Regions from separate parts of the Homo sapiens genome. Here region 2 is linked to region 1. A link means that fine-mapping ties the variant in region 1 to the expression of a gene that starts in the linked region. Tissue or cell type: whole blood. Region 1 holds a variant in brackets; the other region holds the start of a gene. All regions are shown on one strand. Distances are from middle to middle.

Region 1 (8,194 bases):
TAAAAATGTTAGTATTTATATCAATTAAAGTACAGAGTAGAGTGGGACTCAGTCTCACTAAATAAATAAAATACAGAGTAATAATTTAAAAATAAAAATGTAAATGCAGACCCTTAGACCTTTTCACCCAACTACTCTCAGAGAGTCTGATTCAGTGGGTGAACATCACAGAATCAGCTCTCAGGTGACTCTGTGACAGTGGCCCAAAGACCACAGTGGCCTGTAACAGAGGAGGTGGGACATCCCAGATGGTGGAACAGCCTGCCCTGTGCAGTGAGGAGTGGGTGAAGCCCTCATGTGAGGACAGGTTGTCTGACTAGAGCCACAAACTACAGTCGTAAGAAATAAAGAAAATAGGTTGGGCGCAGAGGCTCACGCCTGTAATCCCAGAACTTTGGGAGGCCAAGGCAGGAGGATCACCTGAGTCCAGGAGTTCCAGACCAGCTTGGGCAACATAGTGAGGCCCTGTCTGTACCAAAAAAAAAAAAAAAAAAATTAGCTGGGCATGATGGCGCATGCCTATAGTCCCAGCTACTCAGGAGGCTGAGGTGGGAAGATCGCTTGAGCCTGGGAGGTGGGAAGATCGCTTGAGCCTGGGAGGCAGAGGTTGCAGTGAGCAGTGAGTGGTGCACTCCAGCCTGGGTTACAGAACCAGACCCTGTCTCAAAAAAGAGAGAGAGAGAGAGACAGAGAATCAGGCAAATAGCTTTAGACACTTTTAAAGGAAAAAAAGCAATTGACATTTATTTCGAGTGCATATTGTATGCTAGACATTTTATATAACACAATTGCTTGCTGTATTACTCATGCCAACCCTGGGGGCGTGGGGAATGGGAGGCATTATTATCCGCATGTTACAGATGGTGAAACAAAGCCCAGAGGGGTGTTCTGGATTCACCTTTCCTTTCTGCTATGGTCTGAATGTGTCCTTCCCCGCAAATTCATGTGTTGAAATGCTAATCCCCAAGGTGGATAGTATTAAGAGATAGGGCCTCTGGAAGGTAATTAGGAATGGGATTAGTGCCCATATAAAAAAGAACCAAGGCTCATGCCTGTAATCCCAGGACTTAGGCAGGTGGACTGCTTGAGCCCAGGAGTTCGAGACTAGCCTGGACAACATGGTGAAACCCCGTCTCTACAAAAAGTACAAAAAGTAGCTGAGCGTAGTGGTGCATACCTGTAGTCCCAGCTACTCAGGAGATTGAGGCAGGAGGATCACTTGAGCCCAGGAGGTTGAGGCTGTGGTGAGCAGTGATTTCGCCACTGCACTCCAGCCTGGGCAACAGAGAGACCCCAGTGTGAGAGAGATACTTTCACCCTTTCGACTATGTGAGGACACAGCAATAAGGCTCTGTCAGTGAGGAAGTGGGTCCTCACCAGACAACACCACCTTGATCTTGGACTTCCCACCTTCAGTACTATGAGAAATAAATTTCTGTTGTTTAAAAGCTACCCAGTTTATGGTATTTTGTTATAGCAGCCCAAACAGACTACGATAAATTCACATCCCATACAATTAACCATTTTAGCCACTTTAAAGTGCTCCGTACAGTGGAATCTGGTGGGTTCACACTTGTGCCACCATCACCACTGTCTAGTCCCAGAACATTTTCATCAACCCAAAAGGAAACTCCATATCCACTAACAGTCATTCACCTTCCACTGCCACCGCCCAAGCCCTGGCAACTACTGATGTGCTTTCTCTATGGGGTTCCCTATTCTGGATATTTCATGTAAATGGAATGATAGAATATGTCGCTTTGTGTGTCTAGCTTCTTTTACTTGGCATGTTTCCAAGGTTCATCCACATTGTAGCATGTGTCAGAACTTCATTCCTTTTCATGGCTGAATAGTATTCTATTGTATGGATACACTATATTTTGTTTATCCATTCATTAGTTGGTGGACATTTGGGTTGTTCTACCTTTTGGCTATTGCAAATAGTGTATTATGACTATTGGGTATAATTTTTTTTGAACACCTGCTTCCAATTCTTTGGGTATATACCTAGGAATGGAATTGCTGGATCACCCCTGGGGTTTTAGCATCTTCATTGCTTGGCAGAATGTTCCCTGATCAACCAGGTAAGGAGAACCATGAGGTTCTTTCCCTCCTCTTCCTTCCTTAACCCCTCTAGAGTGGGATTCAAGAGAGGGCAAGCAATTCCAGGTACCTAACAATTTGAAAAAAGAGGAAATGAGCCTTCCCCTTTCAGGTAGGATGAGGGGGTGCAGGAGGGGCAGAGGAATTTGCTGAAAGAACTGGTGAGCATCTAACTACCTCAATGGGGCTCTAGCCTCCTTCTTAGGTGATGTCTCCCCTCAGATTTTTTTTTTGTTTTGAGATAGGGTCTTGCTCTGTTGCCCAGGCTGTAATGCAGTGGCATGACCATGGCTCATTGCAGCCTCAAACTCCCAGCCTCAAGTGATCCTTCCACCTTAACCACCAGAGTAGCTGGGACTACCCATGGCCAGCTAATTTTTTTTATTTTTTATTTTTGGTAGATATGAGGTCTCACTATGTTGCCAGGGCTAGTCTTAAACTCCTGTCTCCCCAGATTTTGTACATGGTAGTCTTCCATGAGTTTTTCAGAGAACTTGGCAATTTACCATCACTTCTGGGTAGGAACTGGGATAAGCTATGAAAGTCGTTACACATAGAAGCCATTTGCAAAGAAAATAAGAGGAAGAGACAAAATTGAAATGAAAGCTGCACAAGGTGAATCTGGGTGCATTATAGCTTGATACATACATTTCTTGGGGAGAAGAATTTTCCAATTCCAAAGGTCATTAGGCGTAAGGCAGCAGTAGCCAATCTTTGTAGGACAACAAGGCATCTGCTTGAGAGGAGCGTTAAGTCTGCTCATAGTCTTGTTGTGGCGTCTGGCTCCTTGCTGCCAACTATGGCCACTCACAGGGAGTGGCTGAGCAGGGGCAAGCGTCCACTTTGTGACTGTGTTATTAGGAGGATTCAGGTAGTGATAAGGCTTGGGTGATTCTGATATCCCTTTCACCCTTAAAATTTGACGAGCTTTGAGGACCTGGGTCCTCAGTGTCTGGTCCTTTAAGTCAAGGGCAAAGTCAGTCCTGAGACATAGCCTCTAGCCACACCTAAGCCCACTCCAACCCACCCACCAGATTTCATTCAGCCCACCAGAAATCCAGGCAGAGCAGAGTCCAAGACCTCCTTTGTCTCAGATCTCAGACTCCCTTGTCTGTCTCTGTCTTACCTTTAGATGGCTCCTATTACACATGTATGTGATATCAACGTCTCTCTGACAAGTAGACACTCAGCATTTTGACTCTGAGCTGTACCCTGTGTGTTCCCCTTGCTTGGTATCTGTGCAGACTTTCCTCTGGACCTGCTGCCATCTCCTTGTCAGGAACTTTCCAAATTTTTTTTGAGCCTCAGGCTGTGGCTTGGTTCCAGTGACTAGACAGCCCTCTTCAGTTTGCTTTTTGACCATTTCCCCAATGACTGCATAAATAGCACATCTGGATGGCCTCCTTTAAGCCCATGATGCTGTGCAGTGCCCACAGCCTGAAGGCCAGGGAGGAGAGACAATCAGCTGTCTGTTTCAAGAGAAGGAGCTCCTGTCCCCATCCCAGCAGTAGAATCCCAATACATACACAGATCACAGCAGAGCTGCTCTGGTTAAAGCTGGGGAGAGAGCCAGAGCCCACCAAGGGCCCTCTCCTTTGCCTTCTTTCTCCAGTGAGTTGACTTTGAAAAACGCCTGGATCAGGGCTGGCAAGGCACTCTGGTTGGCTAGCAAATGGCTCACTTATCCCTTGCTTTCCTTGCTAACATCTAAAAACGCAGGCAGGGCTGGGCACAGTAGCTCACACCTACAATCTCAATGCTTTGGGAGGCTGAAGGGGGAGGATTGCTTGAGCTCAGGAGTTTGATATCTTCCTGGGCAATGCAGGGAGACTCTGTCTCTACAAAAAATTGAAAAAATAAAATAAACTAGCCAGGTGTAGTGGTACACGCCTATGGTTCCAGCCACTTGGGAAGCTGAGGTAGGAGGATTGATTGAGCCCCAGAGTTCAAGGCTGCAGTGAGTCGTGATCACGCCACTACACTCCAGCCTGCACTCCTTGACAGAGCAAGACCTTGTCCCTAATAAATAAATAAATATACAAACAAAAACCCAAGCAGCCTCAGGGGTAGAAGGAACAGCAAGTGCTAAGGCATTTGCCTACCACCTGAGAATCCAAAGAGGTCCAGGGCCATGCAGGATTTTCAGCGGGGGAGAATGAGCTAGAGGACCTAGTTCTGCCTGTCATTCTCCTCTGGAACTGCTCTGGGCTTAGTGCAACATTCCAAGATACCCAGGAGGAGAAC[T/A]GGGATATCCCAAACAAATCAGAACTCCCTAGAATAGTCTGAGATCCTATTAGAAGAAATCCTGAAATGCCTTGCCTTTCGTTTTTTTTTTTGTTTTTTTTGTTTTGTTTGTTTGTTTGTTTGTTTGTTTGAGACGGAGTCTGGCTCTGTCACCCAGGCTGGAGTCCAGTGGCACAATCTCGGCTCACCGCAACCTCCGCCTCCCGGGTTCAGGTGATTCTCCTGCCTCAGCCTCCTGAGTAGCTGGGACTACAGGTGCGCGCCACCATGCCCAGCTAATTTTTGTATTTTTAGTAGAGACGGGGTTTCACCATGTTGGCCAGGCTGGTCTCGAACTCCTGACCTCGTGATCTGCCTGTCTCAGCTTCCCAAAGTGCTGGGATTACAGGCATGAGCCACTGCGCCCAGCCAAACCTTTGTTTTTTCAACGCATGTTTCAGTGGCTACTATGTGCTAGGCACTGGGAATTCAATGGGGAAAACACATTTCCCACCTTTGTCAAGAAATCTATAGTCCAGGCCGGGCGTGGTGGTTCTTGCCTGTAATCCCGGCACTTTGGGAGGCTGAGGCGAGTAGATCACCTGAGGACGGGAGTTCGAGACCAGTCTGATCAACATGGAGAAACCCCGTCTCTACTAAAAATACAAAATTAGCCTGGGGTGGTGGCACATGCCTGTAATCCCAGCTACTCGGGAGGCTGAGGCAGGAGAATCGCTTGAACAACAGGGAGGCAGAGGTGAGCCAAGATCGCACCATTGCACTCCAGCCTGGGCAACAAGAGTGAAACTCCGTCTCAAAAAAAAAAAAAAAAAAAAAAAAAGAAAGCTATAGTCCAATATGGGAGTCAAGGAAATAAGAAGGTAACTACAATACAGTATGCTTAAGTTTCATGGTGGGTGAACAGAAAGCAGTAAAGAATCTACAAGAGGGACACCTAACACCTAATGACCTAATGCAGTTGTTTTTTTTTTTCGAGGCGGAGTCTCGCTCTGTCACCCAGGTTGGAGTGCAGCGGCGGGATCTCGGCTTACTGCAACCTCCGCCTCCCAGGTTCAAGCAATTCTTCTGCCTCGGCCTCCTGAGTAGCTGGGACTACAGGTGCGCATCACCGCACCAGGCTGATTTTTGTATTTTTAGTAGAGACGGGGTTTCACCATGTTGCCCAGGTTAGTCAGGAACTCCTGACCTCAGATGATTCACCCGCCTTGGCCTCCCAAAGTGCTGGGATTACAGGCGTGAGCCACCGCGCCCGGCCTCTAATGCAGTTTTATGTGGTGCTTGTTCCCAGGGAGGCCTGTATTTCAGACATGAAATTTTATGTAAAAGAATCTTGTCCTATGTAGGAAAATGGAACTTGTATGGGATTCAGACTTTTAAACTCAGATCCATTTCTGGTTTTATTATCATTTTTTTTCAGAGACAGGGTCTTTCCATGTTGCCTAAGCTGGTTTCCAACTCCTGGGCTCAAATTATCTTCCCACCTCAGCCTCCCAAAGTGCTGGTATTACTGGCATGAGCCACCATACCTGGCCCATTTCTATGGTTTATTTTATTTTATTTTATTTTTTTGAGACGAGGACTTGCTCTTGTTGCCCAGGCTGGAGTGCAGTGGCATGATCTCGGCTAACTGCAACCTCTGCCTCCCAGGTTCAAACGATTCTCCTGCCTCAACCTCCCGAGTAGCTGGGACTACAGGCGCCCACCACCTTGCTCAGCTAATTTTTGTATTTTTAGTAGAGACGGGGTTTCCCCATATTGGCCAGGCTGGTCTCGAACTCCTGACTTTGTGATCTGCCCACCTCGGCCTCCCAAAGTTCTGGGATTACAGGCGTGAGCCACCACATCCGGCCTAATTTCGTTATCTTTAAAATGGTGACTAGGCCAGGCGCAGTGGCTCACACCTGTAATTCCAGCACTTTGGGAGGCCAAGGCAGGAGGATCACCTGAGGTCAGGAGTTCAAGACCAGCCTGGCCAACATGGGGAAACCCCATCTCTACTAAAAATACAAAACTTAGCTGGGTGTGGTGGCGGGTGCCTGTAATCTCAGTTACTTGGGTAGCTAAGGCAGGAGAATCGCTTGAACCGGGAGGCGGAGGTTGCAGTGAGCCGAGATCATGCCATTGCACTCCTGTCTGGGAGACACAGTGAGACTCTATGTCAAAAAAATAAATAAATAAAAATAAATAAATAAATAAATAAATAAAATGGTGATTAAATAGGCAAGCCCTATGGGATTGTTATGATGGTGATATGAGATCATGTAAATGAAATGCTTAGCATGACTCTTACCACAATCATCTTCATTTTTATCTATATGTACATAGAGGTAGAGAGAGGTCAGGTGACTTGACCAAGGGCACAGGAGAGTCAGTGGCAGATTCAAACTTCAAGGCTCTGTCGACCTGCCCCGGACCCCATCCTCCTGACACCACACAGAACCTCCTCTCAGGAAATGGGGGTAAGGCTGATGGGGACTGCTCTGGTCCCCAAGGCTCAGGACACACTGGAAAACAGAGGATCTCAATTCTGCTCCACACCGACGCCTGTCCCCACACCCTGAACCATGAGCAGAGATAACAGTCTTGCCAAGCTGTTGGTAGGCTAACAGCTAGGCACACACAGGCCAGAGAAAGGAAAAAGAATGATGAGGTGACCAAATAAATAGGAGAGTAGAGTCAAGGGTAGTAGCTCACACCTGTAATCCCAGCACTTTGGGAGGCTGAGGCGGGTGGATCACTTGAGGTCAGGAGTTGGAGGGCAGCCTGGCCAACATGGTGCAACCCTATCTCTACCAAAACATAACAAACCCAAACAAACAAATAAAAAATTAGCTGGGTGTGGTGGCGCAGGCCTGTAGTCCCAGCTACTTGGGAGGCTGAGGCCAGAGAATCGCTTGAGCCCAAGAAGGTGAAGCTGCAGTGAGCCAAGATTGTGCCACTGCACCCCATCCTGGGTGACAGCAGAGTGAGAACCTGTCTCAAAAAAGAAAAAAAAAAGAAATGTGAAAAATGAAAAGTAGGTATGTTCCTAGTAGACTGTAAGCTCCAGGAAGGCAGGGATCATGTCTGCTTATCATCATATCCCTGGTGCCTAAGATAATATCTGGTATATAACTAGGTTCATGAATATGGGCTGAAAACAATTGAAGATACGAGGTCACGTCATAGCCACATCACTTAGCCTCTTATTATTTCCTACCTTTTCCCTCAAAACACACACCCTACTTCAAATGTTTTGCCTCCATTTCCAGTACTGGGGCTACTTAAAAATGATTTCAAAGACGTGGTACAGGCCGGGTGTGGTGGTTCACGTCTGTAATCCTAGCACTTTGGGAGGCCGAGGCGGGCGGATTACTTGAGGTCAGAAGTTCAAGACCAGCTTGGCCAACATGGTGAAACCCCGTCTCTACTGAAAATACAAAAATTAGCCAGGCATGGTGGTGTGCGCCTATAGTTCCAGCTAGTTGGGAGGCCGAGGTGGGAGAATTGCTTGAACCCGGGAGGTGGAGGTTGCAGTGAGACCAAGATCGCGCCACTGCACTCCAGACTGAGCGACAGAGTGAAACCCTGTCTCAAAAAAAAAAAAAAAAAAAAAAGAGAGATTTCCAAGGTGTAGTATTGGGTTCTGGAGAACCCAGACCACACTGGCCCCTTCCTAAAGCGCCCGTCTAATTTCTCATTCCAAGCCTTCCTCCTGTGGCCAGTTTCTCCTGCATCCCACTCTCTCTTCTGCCTCATGAACCCTCATTTTGACATGAGGGGTCAAAGGCAGGTTTAAAGGCAGAAGACCCAGCTTGAGTACTGCTTCTACTAGAGGTAATCCCTATAAGCCTCCGTTTCCTTATCC
Region 2 (8,174 bases), 26 kb after region 1:
CCCTCTCCCCCTTATGTAACCACTTTTATAGGTATTTTGTGTATCCTTCCAGAATTTCTTTACTCAAATTCTGATGAATATTCTTGGTTTCCCTGCTCTTTGACATAAAAAGTATCATATTGGCCAGGTGCGGTGGCTCACGCCTGTAATCCCAGCACTTTGGGAGGGCGAGGCGGGTGGATCTCTCGAGGCCAGGAGTTCGAGACCAGCCTGGCCAACATGGCAAAACCCCGCCTGTACTGGAAATACAAAAACTAGCCAGGCATGGTGGTGCACACCTGTAATCCCAGCTACTTGGGAGGCTCAGGCACAAGAATTACTTGAACCTGGGAGGCAGAGGTTGCAGTGAACCGAGATCACGCCACTGCATTCCAGCCTGCGTGACAAGAGTGCAACTCTGTCTCAAAATAAAATAAAAAATAAAATAAATAAAATGTATCACACTAAGTATATGGTTTTGAATCTTTCCCTTTTTTATTTAAAGAACACCTTGGAGTACTTTCTCATTCTCTGTTGCAGCCACATAGTATTTTATTGTATGGATGTATCAAGATTTATTTTTTCTGTTTCCTATTGATAGAAATATGGGTTATTTCTAATCTTTTGCTGTTACAGAAAAGCTGCAATGAATAGCCTTATACATACGTTTCTCGTGAGTGCAAATATATCTGTAGAATCACTCCCATTAGTGGGAATGGTATGTTTGCAAGTTTGATGGATATTGCCAAATTAACCTTATAGGATTTGTACCAATTTTCACCCCCATCACCAACAAATTAGAATGCCTGCTTATCCACAGCCCTGCAAATAATGTTAGCAAATGTTTGGATTTTCGCCAATCTGATAATGATATCGGTGGGGTTTAATCTGCCTTCTGATTACGACCCAGGCTGAACATCATTTCATGTGTTAGGGAGTCATTTGTTTTTCCTTTTCTGTGAACTGTCTGTCTGTAAATGTCATTTGCCATTTTTTTCTAATGGTTGATCATATTCTTACTGATGTCTAAGAGTTCTTTACATGCAGGAAGATTAGCTCTTTGTGATGTAAATTACAAATATATTTTTCCAATTTGTCATTTGACTATATGGAGTTTTGACTTTGTAGAAATTTTGTCCTGACATTAGTCCTGGAACTAGTCCAGTTGTTTCTGCTTCCTGGATATTTCTGGAATCCCCCCATTTCTCTCTACTGTACTGCCTCTTCCCTAGGCCAGTCTGCCATCATCACACCTAAATGACTAAATTTGATTCTAAATGGTATCTCAGACATACGTCCACTCTTGCCCTTTCTTTAACCTATTCTATATTCTTTAGCAACCAGAGGGATTTTTCCTTTTCTTTTCTTTATTTTTTTGAGATAGCCTCTATCACCGAGGCTGGCAGAGTACAGTGGTGTGACCACGACTCACTGCAGCCTCGACCTCCCGGGCTCAAGCAGTCCTCCTATCTCAACCCCTCGAGTAGCTGGGATCACAGGTGCGTGCCTCTATGCCTGGATACTTTTTTAGAAATTTCTTGCCGAGATGGGGTTTCACCACGTTGCACAGGCTGGTCTTGAACTCTTGGGCTCAAAGAATCCTCCTGCCTTGGACTCCCAAATTGTTGGGAATGCAGGCATGAGCCACTGTGCCTGGCCCAGAAGCATTTTTCTAAAAGAAAAACACAAGCCAGGAGCAGTGGATCACGCCTGTAATCCCAAGTTTGGGAGGCCGAGGCAGGAGGATTGCTTGAGGCCAGGAGTTCTAGACTACTCTAGGCAACAAAGTGAGACTCTGTCTCTATAAAAAATTTAAAATTAGCCAGGCATGGTGGCAAGCACCCACTGTCCCAGCTACTCGGGAGGCTGAGGTGAGAGGATGAACTGAGACCAGGAGTTCAACGTTGCCGTGAGCTGTGACTGCACCACTGCACTCCAGCTTGGGTGACAGAGCAAGACCCTGTCCCAATCAATCAATCAATCAAACAAAAACAAGATCATATCACTTTCCTGCTTAACATTCTTCAGTGGCTAACTAGTGCCCTTAACATAGAATCCAGTATCTTCATGTGGGATCTTACATGGGCTCTAAGGCGTCCCTGCAAGGTCTGGCTCACAGTTCTTCAGCGTCAATTTTTTTTTTTTTTTTTTTGAGACAGAATCTTGCTCTGTCACCCAGGCTGGAGTGCAATGGCACGATCGCGGCTCACTGCAACCTCCGCCTCCCAGGTTCATGCAATTCTCCTGCCTCAGCCTCCCAAGTAGCTGGGATTACAGGCACGCACCACCATGCCCAGCTAATTTTTGTGTTTTTAGTAGAGACGAGGTTTCCCCATGTTGGCCAGGCTGGTCTCGAACTCCTGACCTCAAGTCATTTGCCCGCCTTGGCCTCCCAAAGTGCTGGGATTACAGGCATGAGCCACCGCACCCGGATCTTCAGGGTCATCTTTTATCAGTCCCCTTACCAGTATGCTCTGGCTACACTGAACTCTTTCATGCCCTCCCCCTCTATAAGCCTTCTCACCTCTAGGCCTTTGCATAAGCAGTTCCCTCTTCCAGGAACCCTCTTCACTTGCTTAACCTGCTCTCACCCTTCAGATTTCATCTCAGACATCACTTGCATCAGGAAACCTTCCCTGACTACATCAGAATAGAGTAGGTGCCTCACCTATGTGTTCTCCTCACACTCCATGCTGTCTTTATGTCAGCACTAATCATATTATGTGTTCACTTTTCTGTCTCTCCCATTAGGTAGACCATAAATTCCATGAGAGTATGGACTATGCCTGTCTCTTCATTATTATTTCCCTAGTGCCTGTCACAGGGCCTGGCACATAATAGGTGCTCAAAAAATATTTGTTAAATTAATGTAAGAAAGAATGTTTGATAAATGACCAAATAAACATCTTCATCTCATTGGGGAATCTACGAGAATGAAGAAAATGCCAAAGTTTGATCCTGTTCAAGAAAGTAGCTAATTACTACTACTTTTTTTTGTAGAGATGAAGTCTCACTATGCTGCCTAGGCTGGTTCTGAACTCCTGGCTCAAGCGATCCTCCTGCCTAGGCTGCCCAAAGTGTTGGGATTACAGGTGTGAGCTGTTGCACCCAGCCACCATTTACTTCTTAATTCCACCTGCCAGAGAAAGCACTGGCCTGCAACTCTTTCATTTTTGTTAGTAATCTCATTTGGCTCTGCCCTGGTTTTCCCAATGCCCAGGTCCCACTGTGACAAGCAAAATACCCAACAACCTGTAAAGTAGGCCTGACCAATCTGAGGGCAGTTTACATGAGCAGGAGGTAGGCCCAGGAGAGTTCCTGGGTCCTAAGAGTTAACCCTTTAATCATTGGACAATGGAGGTGGCAAGATCGCTTGAGGCTGGAAATTCAAGACCAGCCTGGCCAACACAGGGAGACCCCATCTCTGTATTAAAAAATGAATAGCACGTGCCTGTAATCCCAGCTAGTCGGGAGGCTGAGGCAGGAGAATCGCTTAGAACCCTGGAGGCGGAGGTTGCAGTGAGCTGAGATTGCGCCACTGCACTCCAGCCTGGCGACAGACCAAGCCTCTGTCTCAAAAATAAATAAATAAATAAATAAATAAATAAATAAATAAATAAATAAATAAAAATAAGGCTCGGCGCAGTGGCTTATGCCTGTAATCCCAGAACCTTGGGAGGCCGAGGCAGGTGGATCACCTGAGGTCAGGAGTTCGAGACCAGCCTGGCCAACATGGTGAAACCCCGTCTCTACTAAAAAATACAAAATTTGCCGGTCGTGGTGGCGGGCACCTGTAATCCCAGCTATTCGGGAGGCTGAGGCAGGAGAATTGCTTGAACCCAGGAGGCGGAGGTTGCAGTGAACCGAGATCATGCCACTGCACTCCAGCCTGGGCGACAGAGCAAGACTCCATCTCAAAAAAAAAAAAAAAAAAAAAAAGAAAAGAAAAAATTAAAACTTTTTTTAGAAAGAAAGAAAACCAGCCTGGCCAACATAGTGAAACCCCGTCTCTACTAAAAATACAAAAATTAGCCAGGAATGGTGGCGCACGCCTGTAGGCCCAGCTACTCAGGAAGCTGAGGCAGGAGAATTGCCTGAACCCGGGAGGTGGAGGCTGTGGTGAGATCGCCCCACTGCACTCTAGCCTGGGCAAGCGAGCAAGACTCCGTCTCAAAAAAAAAAGAAAAAGAAAAGAAAACACTTAATCGCTGCCCTAAAGGATGCCATCTTTGCCCTTAAGGATAATTAGGTTAGAAAGAGAAGCCATACATAGAGAAAAATAGAGGTACCATACAGGTCACCTGCAACAGGTGCTAAAAAAAGGAAAGGGCCACAAACACTCCATGGGTAGTGCAGTTATGTCAGTTTCAGTGCCAGGTGTTGCGTACAGCACGGAAAACATAACCCCTTCCTGTACGTGAGAAAGGCAACGACTGTCCTGGGGAAGACAGGGCAGCGAAGATTCCAGTGCAGGTCTCATTCAGGAAAGGATACATGTGAGCTGGAGTGGCAAAATAAATTTTAACAGAGCTGAAGCTTAAGTTGGGCTTGGTGGGGAGGGACGCATGATAAACTAAGGTGTGGGGAGCCGATTTCAGGCAGTGCGACAAATTTGCAGAAATCTAAGCCCCTCGTGGAAGGTTGCCAAGGTGAGGTGACCTTGAGTGAATGCGTGTAGGTGGAAAAAGGTTCCGGGGAATGCTTGCATCGTTCTGCATCCGAGCGTCCAACAGAGAAAAGATCCTGTTTCCAGACAATACCTGCATTTGGTTTTTCTCCAGCTGAGGGACACCGGTAGGGGGGGGGAGGACAGAAACGAGCAGGGGGTGGGGCCAAGGCGAGTGGGCGGGACCGCGCGGACCCTCCCGCGGCCGACTGGAGGCCCGGAGCAGGGGCGGAGTTTCCGGCGGCAGCGCCACTCGGGCGTCGGGTGACGCTAGGCGGACGGACCATCATGTGACACGGAAGTAGCTCCGAACAGGAAGAGGACGAAAAAAATAACCGTCCGCGACGCCGAGACAAACCGGACCCGCAACCACCATGAACAGCAAAGGCAAGGACCGAGGGTGGCAGAGGCCGTCGGGGGGAGTACTGCTGGCCCAGAGCGAGCGGATTCGGAGCCCAGGGTCACCAAACGCCAGGTTTGGGGTGGGCTGCGCCATGCTCCTTGGCCGGCTGCAGTCCAGGGCGCTGCGCCTGACGCCTTCGTCATACCCAAATTACGGCAGCTTGCTGCCTCCAGGCCCTTTCCTCCGTAAACTCTGTGGCGCAGTTTGGAGCTGCGGGCTCGGGTGGTGGGGGGGCTTGACATGATGGGCATCCGCAGGAGCAAATAGAGCGCTAGCGCAGGCATTCGCGTAGGCCAATGGAGAGCCGGCGGAGGCGGGGCGCCGCGCTCCGGAACCCCCAGCGGGGCCGAACTTAACTACTGAATTGCTGGAGTTGGTTCGTGGGCCGGGGCCTGTGAGGTCTCTTTTCCTTCCCTTCGCACCCCCTCGCCCTTCGCTGACGGGATCAGAACTTCTCCCCTTTTCTGTGGTTGTACCAGTGTGTCTGTCGGAACATGATTCCCATAACGCAGGAATAGGTTGAGGGGGTAAAAAAGGAATAGAAAAAAAAAAAAAAAAAAGGCCGAGCGAGGTTGCTCACGCCTGTAATCCCAGCAGTTTGGGAGGTCGAGGCGGGCGGATCACCTGAGGTCAAGAGTTCGAGACCAGCCTGGCCAACGTGGTGAAACCCCGTCTCTATTAAAAAATACAAAAATCAGCTGGGCGTGGTGGCGGGCGCCTGTAATCCCAGCTACTCGGGAGGCTGGGGTAGGAGAATTGCTTGAACCCAGGAGACGGAGGTTGCAGTGAGCCGAGATCGCGCCACTGCACTCCAGCCTGGGCAAAAGAGCGAGACTCCGTCTCAGAACAAACAAAAAACCAAACCTGATCCCCCGCTTTTCCAGTGAGGATATTCCTCCTCACCCCTCAGCCCTGCACCCTTTTCCCAGTCTCACGGTTCACTTCCATCATTCACACCCTTTGTTTGGAAGTCGACCTTGAATAGTAATCTGTAAGGAAAATCAGAACTGCTGTTACCCACGAAGTCTGGGCTGGTTGTAGACAGGCTGTGGAGACTACCTAGAGCAGAGGCACCCTTGATAAGCCAGAACAGCAGCAGGCCAGAACCCCAGACCTGTCCTGCATTCCGGAGGGAACTTGGGCCCAGGTAGACTTAACCCCTTACTTCGGTATGTTAGTAGGAGCAGTGAGCAGTGCCTTTCTTGTCTCGTTAGAATCCAGCACCTTCCATTTTAAGGGTGCAAAGACAATGCATATTTTCTTAGTTCCAGGAATCAGGCCCTCTGGGGCAGACTATTTGCAAATCCCCTTCTGCTTGCTCCCACTAAGTTAGCTACCCGATATGACCTGCCTCATTTTGGTAGCTCTGTGTAGTAGGCAACCTTCATTTTTTTCTTGTCTTTCAGGTCAATATCCAACACAGCCAACCTACCCTGTGCAGCCTCCTGGGAATCCAGTATACCCTCAGACCTTGCATCTTCCTCAGGCTCCACCCTATACCGATGCTCCACCTGCCTACTCAGAGGTGCTTCCAGTTTGCCAGATTTGAACTAGCTGGGAATACTCTTAGGGTGGTCCTTTAGTCCTTAGCTAAATCTGACTTCACATATTTACTCTTCACAAATGCTAACATGAATAATCTAAAACACTATATAATTTGGCAATTTTTGTCGGAGTTGAAAGTGCATTATTTGATGATTTTGTGTTATTTGGCACAGGCTAAGGTGCAGAAGATGAATTTGCGTTCTGTGAGCCCAACATTAGCTATAGCAGAAAGTGATCCAGGAGAATATTGAAGGCCAGTGGAAAGGCAACTTGTATAATCTTACAAAAAGTATAACCTGCATAAGGAGAATTAAGAATTAGCTCATTAAAGAGATCTCAAATAGGAATGTCATAAAGTAACATTTTGCCTTCTCTTCTGCCTCTTCTAGCTCTATCGTCCGAGCTTTGTGCACCCAGGGGCTGCCACAGTCCCCACCATGTCAGCCGCATTTCCTGGAGCCTCTCTGTATCTTCCCATGGCCCAGTCTGTGGCTGTTGGGCCTTTAGGTTCCACAATCCCCATGGCTTATTATCCAGTCGGTCCCATCTATCCACCTGGCTCCACAGTGCTGGTGGAAGGAGGGTATGATGCAGGTGCCAGATTTGGAGCTGGGGCTACTGCTGGCAACATTCCTGTGAGTATGACCTCATCAGAAGAAACTCAGCCCTTGTGTATTTTAACTTTCTGAAATGACTTCATATTCATTCTCTTACCATTTCTGGATGATAGTTGCCAGTGTTGGTACAACTACTGACATCCAATACTCAGGCAGAAAGTGTTTGAGGGGGCAGAACTGTGGCAAGTGAGTAGCATCTCACTGGGGGCTGAGTTAACCAGATTCTTTTGTTTTCATGTCTGTCGAGTCCTGCTTGCTGCTTTTCCAGTTCATTGTGGTACACTGAACTGGTCTAGTAATGCTCCTTATTCATTCCATAAGCATTTACCATTTACTTAATATTTGCCATCAGCATGGTGTTGCACTAGGAACCCTGATAATTAAAAAAGTAGAATGTATAATCCCTAGTAAGTAGCTTTTAGAAAGATATTAACAATTTTAGTTATCATTTTTTCCTACTTAATTCCCCAGTGCGTGGGATTTAGAGCTCAAATGACTGCTCAGTAACTACATGCTAGAGATGAAGTGAATGTGTCATTAGCGAGCCTTCAGTTTTCCAGTAGTTCATTCAAAAACTGTGTAAGGGCGAAGCACGGTGGCTCACCTGAGGTCAGGAGTTTGAGACCAGGCTGGCCAACATGGTGAAACCCCGACTCTACTATAAATACAAAAATTAGCCGGGCATGGTGGCAGGCGTCTGTAATCCCAGCTACTTGGGAGGCTAAGACAGGAGAATCACTTGAACCTGGGAGGTGGAGGTTGCAGTGAGCTGAGATCCCACCACTGCACTCCAGCCTGGGCGACAAGAGCAAGACTCTATCTCAAAAAAATTAAAAAAAAAAAAAATTAAAAATTAAAAACTATGTAGGGACCATGTGGGATTCATACATGGACTGGCACCCTGTCCCTGTTTTGGGAATGTGAGTAGGACAGTGGTTCTCTACCCTCAAAATGACTGTTGGTC

Evidence for each region. PIP is the estimated chance that this variant, and not a neighbour inherited with it, causes the effect.
Region 2: DAZAP2 starts here. The variant in region 1 is fine-mapped to the expression of DAZAP2 in whole blood (INTERVAL, PIP 0.98).

What each region holds. Positions count from the first base shown.
Region 1 is chr12:51,207,635-51,215,828 of GRCh38, forward strand. The region is part of intron 1 of POU6F1 (POU class 6 homeobox 1); the gene reads right to left. Among named protein-coding and RNA genes, the nearest start is that of POU6F1, 6.3 kb to the right of the region's middle. The variant T/A (reference allele first, on the strand shown) is at 4,348.
Region 2 is chr12:51,233,889-51,242,062 of GRCh38, forward strand. It overlaps DAZAP2 (DAZ associated protein 2), which reads left to right and starts at 4,938. Exons shown (of 4, transcript NM_014764.4): 1 at 4,938-5,032; 2 at 6,455-6,573; 3 at 6,983-7,228. The coding sequence starts at 5,020. RefSeq lists enhancers at 3,988-4,625, 4,717-5,011, 4,935-5,184, 5,901-6,537 and a silencer at 4,735-4,844.